Linked DNA regions of Homo sapiens: region 2 is linked to region 1. Evidence: fine-mapped expression QTL. A gene starts in region 1. The other region holds a variant in brackets. All regions are shown on one strand. Distances are between the middles of the regions. Region 1 holds the start of OGDH (oxoglutarate dehydrogenase). Region 2 overlaps OGDH (oxoglutarate dehydrogenase).

The links. PIP is the estimated chance that this variant, and not a neighbour inherited with it, causes the effect.
Region 2: its variant is the best candidate, but not a certain one, in a credible set for the expression of OGDH in whole blood (TOPMed, PIP 0.71).

Annotation. Positions count from the first base shown.
Region 1 is chr7:44,604,933-44,607,840 of GRCh38, reverse strand. It overlaps OGDH (oxoglutarate dehydrogenase), which reads right to left and starts at 1,214. Exons shown (of 23, transcript NM_002541.4): 1 at 1,188-1,214. RefSeq lists enhancers at 225-564, 240-803, 1,055-1,654 and a silencer at 785-1,014.
Region 2 is chr7:44,641,426-44,644,333 of GRCh38, reverse strand. All of the region lies in intron 2 of OGDH (oxoglutarate dehydrogenase), which reads right to left. Among named protein-coding and RNA genes, the nearest start is that of OGDH, 36 kb to the right of the region's middle. The variant A/T (reference allele first, on the strand shown) is at 1,398.

The sequences.
Region 1 (2,908 bases):
AATATCAGCTACTTGGGAGGCTGAGGCAGGAGAATCACTTGAACCCAGGAAGGCAGAGGTTGCAGTGAGCCGAGATCGCGCCACAGCACTCCAGCCTGGGCGACAGAGACTCCATCTCAAACAAGACAACAACAACAAAAAATGAGCATACAGTGATCTTTATTCAACTTCCCAAGATCCAGTCCTCAGCTAATTTACAAAACTACAATAGTGTTACATACTCTCCTAGGTCTACACGGCAAAGTACAGTTTGACTGTTGCAACTAGTGCTGCCTTACAAAAAAAGGCTTTATCCCATGCCACCCATCCTAAACCCAGCTGTTCAGAGCAGTGTACCTGGAAATCAGCCTCAAAGTACGGACTGCAAGACAAGGCACAAGGAAACCCTAACACGAAGTCCTATGTTCTGGGCAAAGGGATGGGGATGGCAGGTGGGACGCACCCAGGTCAGGGCGAGGGCGCGGCAAGTTTTCTATTAAATCTCAGTAGATTACAACTCATATCCAATGTCTGATATATTTTCGAGGGAAAATGGTGCTTGAAAGATGTTTCTACGAGAAATAAGCTTCATCTCGGTCAATCTGTTCGACCCAACTTCTGGCAGCAGGTGTGGGGGCGGCGCCAAGGTCTGCGCGGTAATCCAAACAGGCAGTCCCACCCAGGGCCACCCCAAAGCCAGATGCTCCGACGCAACTCGAGCAGGCCACACTGTCTTTCGGACAAAGCGACGCGGTCCTCACAGGCGGGAAGGAGAGTGCGTCCCGGTCGGGAAGGACGCCGTCGGAGAGCGGCCTAACCACGTGACGCCCGCGGCGACCTTGGGGGTCACCCCTGCGGACGCACCGCCCTCTCCCTCACATCCGCCGCCGCGCCCGCCCCCCGCTCGCCCACCGCCAATGGCGCGTCGCTCCGCGCCCCGCGCGACCTCGGAGCCCGCCCGTACCCGCCAATCTCCGCCCGCCGGGCAGGCCCCGCGGCTCCATTGGCTGCCACGGCCATCCATCAGGTCCCGTCCCTCCTACCACCCTCCGTGAGCCCCACTCCATCCAGCTCCACTCCCCTGTCACCGCGGCGCCCGCAGCACCAAGGGCGCGGCGGCCTCCCCCTTTACCGCGATCTCCAACCCCGGGCCGCCAAGCGCCGCGACACCCGGCACTGGGACGGGCGCGGCGACAGCGCACGGTTACCTGTCTCCGGCTCAGCTCCACCCGAATGAGGCGCCGACACCCCACTCCGGGGCTCCAAACTCTCGGCCCCGCCCCGGCGTATGGCGTCAACACGTAGCCCTCCCCTGGAGAAGAATGCCCTCCCCTCTTACAGAGGACCGATTCGTGACGTCACAGAGCCGCGCCGGGCGTCACAGCGCCGACTGCGCAGTTGCAGAAGCCAGGGCCAGCTGGAGCCCAGCTGTTTGCTCCGCTAGAGAGATGAGGTTGTCTATGGACTTCCAGCGGCTTCTGCTATCATAAATAATTTCTGAAAGTAAGATATCTCTAGCGCCTGGTAGGAACCTATCAAGAGATAGTTGGGTTGATGTGAAACTTAGCGCACAAAAATAAACAATTTGAATAACAGAATCTCCGTTTTTGAGATTGTCCTGGGTCAGGCTTTGTGACAAGCGCTTCACCGGCGCTATTGTGTAACAATCTGTGAGACAGGTGTTCCTATCCCCGGTCTACAAATGACAGTTGGCAGTGCTGGGATCTTGCCCGGGATCTTGCCTGGGTTTTCTTGACTTTAGAGCTACCTATCAAAGATAAAACGTGGCTAATTAACCTGTCACAACCTGTTGATTGTAAGATGTTCCCTATTTTAAAGTATTAAAATTTGGGGAAAGGCCGGGCGCGGTGGCTCACGCCTGTAATCCCAGTACTTTGGGAGGCCGAAGCGGGCGGATCACTTGAGGTCAGGAGTTCGAGACCAGCTTGACCAACATGGGGAAACCCCGTCTCTACTAAAAATACAAAAATTAGCTGGGCGTGGTGGCGATCCCAGCTACTCGGGAGGCTGAGGCAGGAGAGTCGCTAGAACCCGGGAGACGGAGGTTGCGGTGTGCCGAGATCGTGCCATTGCACTCCAGCCTGGGCAACAAGAGCGAAAATCCGTCTCAAAAAACAAACAAAAAAAGGGGGCGTATAAGTGCTTATTATAGAACAAAGTTAGGGTAATGTATGTGACAAGGATCTAGAGACTGGAAGAGGTGAAGAGACCAAGGAACAAACTTCTGTATTCTTTTTTCCTTTTTTTTTTTTAAATAAATTACGGTAAAAATGTATGTACTAAACATTTGCAGCTGGGTGCAGTGGCTCACGCTTGTAATCCCAGCACTTCGGGAGGTGGAGGCGGGAGGATCGCTTGAGCTCAGGAGTTCCAGATCAGCCTGGGGAACAGAGCAAGATCTCATTTCTACTAAAAAATCAAGAAAATTAGCCAGGTGTAGTGGCACTCACCTGTAGTCTCAGCTAATTGGGAGGCTGAGGCAGGAGGATCTCTTGAGCCTGAGAGATTGAGGCTGCAGTGAGCTATGATTGTACCACTGCACTCCAGCCTGGGCCAGAGAGCAAGATACTGTCTTTTTTTTTTTAATGCCATTTTAACCATTTTTAGGTGTATAACTCAGTGGCATTAATTACATTCACAATATTATGCAACCGTCACCACTCAATTTCCAAAACTTTTTCATCACCTGAAACAGCAACTCTGTAACCATTAAGCAATAACTTCCTATTTCCCCTTCTCCTCCTGTCCTTCTCTCCTTTGGTAACCTCTATTATACGGTCTCTATACATTTGATTACTCAATTACTTTATGTGGGTGAAATCATAATGTATATGTCCTTTTGTGTCCACCTTATTTCATTGAGCATGAGGTTGTCAAGGTTTATCTGTGTTGTAGCATGGGTCAGAAC
Region 2 (2,908 bases), 36 kb before region 1:
GGTTTATTCATCTCATACAAAGATGCAAGTTTTTAAAATATTTAAGAGATCAGACATACTAAGACTTCACAAAAGTTCATTGTAAAAAGAAAAGAAAAGCACAATTAAACATCAGTTTATTTTAATTTTTTTGAGATGAAGTCTCGCTCTGTTGCCCAGGCAGTGTGGTGGCATGATCTTGGCTCACTGCAACCTCCACCTCCCGGGTTCAAGTGATTCTCCTGCCTCAGCCTCCTGAGCAGCGGGGATTACAGGAGCACGCCACCAGGCTTATAATTTTTGTATTTTTAGTAGAGATGGGGTTTTATCATGTTGGCCAGGCTGGTCTCAAACTCTTGACCTCAAGTGATCCACTTGCTTTGGCCTCCCAAAGTGTTGGGATTACAGGCGTAAGCCATCGCGCCTGGCAAAACATCAGTTTAAAAAAAAAATAGAAACATTGTTTTTCTTTTCTGCAATACCTTTTCCAGCCTCTAAAATTCTTCCATCAATAAACTCTGATAAGACTGTCTTGAAAAACTTGGAGAGGCAAGGCAAAACTTTATGAGATCTTTGCATTCTCCTTCTAACAAGATGCCACCCAGATGTGCTCCTTGTCTGGGACATGGCTGGATATCAAATGGGTCTGTCTGAGTCTGGAGACCAGAAGGTAGAGATGGCTACAGAATCCAGTATGCTGGTCCTTAAGGTCTTCTGTTTTTTTCAGACAGGTTCTTTTATAATGCTGGCTAGGGCACAGATGTACGTCACTCAGATGGTCCCACTACCAAGAGCACTGCTATATACTGCTGCTAGACACAAACTAGAAAAGACACAATGATAATGCACAGGCCTGGACCATCTGCCTCATGCAGGGGAGTCTGATCTCTCAGTGAAATCTGTTTTTGAGGGGAGTTTTGTGGAATACTTTTTTTTTCCTTCCCTTTTTCTTTTTTGTAGAATATTTAAAACATTCTATAATAAGCATGTATTTTTTGGTATTCAGAAAAAATAACTTAAAGAAAACAACCACCAGAGATGTGACTGCACAGTATTGTGAACATACTAAAAACCACTGTAGCTGGGTGTAGTAGCATGTGCCTGTAGTCCCAGTCACTTGGGAAGCAGAGGCAGGAGGATCACTTAAGCCTAGGAATTCAAGGCTGGCCTGGGCAATACAGCAAGAACCCATCTGTTAAAAACAAAACTCCACTGAATGGTACACTTAAAAAATGACTTTTTTTTTTTTTTTTTTTTTTTAAAGAAACAGGGTCTTGCTCTGTTGCCCAAACTGGTCTCAAACTCCCAGCCTCAAGCAATCCTCCTGCCTCAGTCTCCCAAAGTGATGGGAATCCAGTTGTGAGTCACCAGGACCAGGCCAAATAATTACATTTATGTTATGTGAATTATATTTAAAA[A/T]TTTTTTTTTTTTTTGAGACAGAGTCTAGCTCTGTTGCCCAGGCTGGAGTGCAGTAGTGCAATCTCGGCTCATTGCAACCTCTGCCTCCTGGGTTCAAGCGATTCTCCTGCCTCAGCCTCCCGAGTAGCTGGGATTACAGGCGCCTGCCACCATGCCCAGCTAATTTTTGTATTTTTAGTAGAGACAGGGTTTCACTGTGTTGGCCAGGCTGGTCTCGAACTCCTGACCTTGTGATCCACCCGCCTTGGCCTCCCAAAGTGCTGGGATTACATGCGTAAGCCACTGCACCTGGCCTTTAAAATGTTTTTACAAATCAAACTATTTGAGGTTTTACGGTTTTTACCTTTCTGGTTAATTTCTGGTGTATTGTCTGATGTAGAAGACAGATTTGGGGTTCTCTTCTGGCACCTCCCACAAAACCTATTACAGAAGCATCTTATACAAATGTAACCCAACAATCAGGAACATGAAAAAAGGCTGCAAACTTTCCTTTTCTTTCTTTTTTATTTTTTGAGACAGGGTCTGGCTCTGCTGCCCAGGCTGGAGTAGACTGGCACGATCTTGGCTCAATGTAACCCCCACCTCCGGGGCTCAAGTGATTCTCCTGCTTCAGCCTCCTGAGTAGCTGGGACCACAGGCACGCACCACCACGCATGGCTAATTTTTTTACTAAATATTTTTTTGTGGAGATGAGGTTTCACCATGTTGCCCAAGTTGTTCTTGAACTTCTGAGCTCAACTGATCTGCCCGTCTCAGCCTCCCAAAGTGCAAGGATTATAGGCATGAGCCACCATCTGGGCCTAAACTTTCCTTTTCAACAGATGCTATCAAAATGTTTGCTAAAGAAACCCAGGGTTTGGAATCTCCAAAGAGATTCTCACCTTCCTCCATTAAATCGGTTCTCATGAAAACTCAGTGTTCTCCTCCAACATGAGAAAAGGCAGTATTTCCACCAGAGGAAAAAACTGACTTACTCTTAGGAGAGAAAACAGAGGATGTCTCAGCATCAACTCCCTAGGCAAAGTAAAGGCTGCCTCCCACTCAGTCCATGACTGGTTCTGTCAAGGACACAGGGATCTAAAAGGTGGCTGTGCACAAATACACTGGACACCCTCAGGTACTTCTGACTTCATGGAGCTTTTCCAGCAGGACTGAGAGCTCCATACATTCTAGAAGCAGAGATGACTGGGGACCACATGCATTGGACATCCATCTTCATTGTGAAAGCAGGGATGACCAATGACTGCACTTCTTGGCCTCTACCCAGGCCTCCAATAACTGAGGACCTGACCTAAAAGGAGAAACCCCTTGAATACAGCAGGAAACTGAGCAGGAGTCAGTCTGGCTGTATCCCACCCCTGCACAGCAAGAACCAACAGCAAGCTACCACTGTCACGTAAAACCTAATCAGGCCAGGCGCAGTGGCTCATGCCTGTAATCCCAGCACTTTGGGAGGCCAAGGTGGGTGGGTCACCTGAGATCAGGAGTTCGAGACCAGCCTGGCCAACAT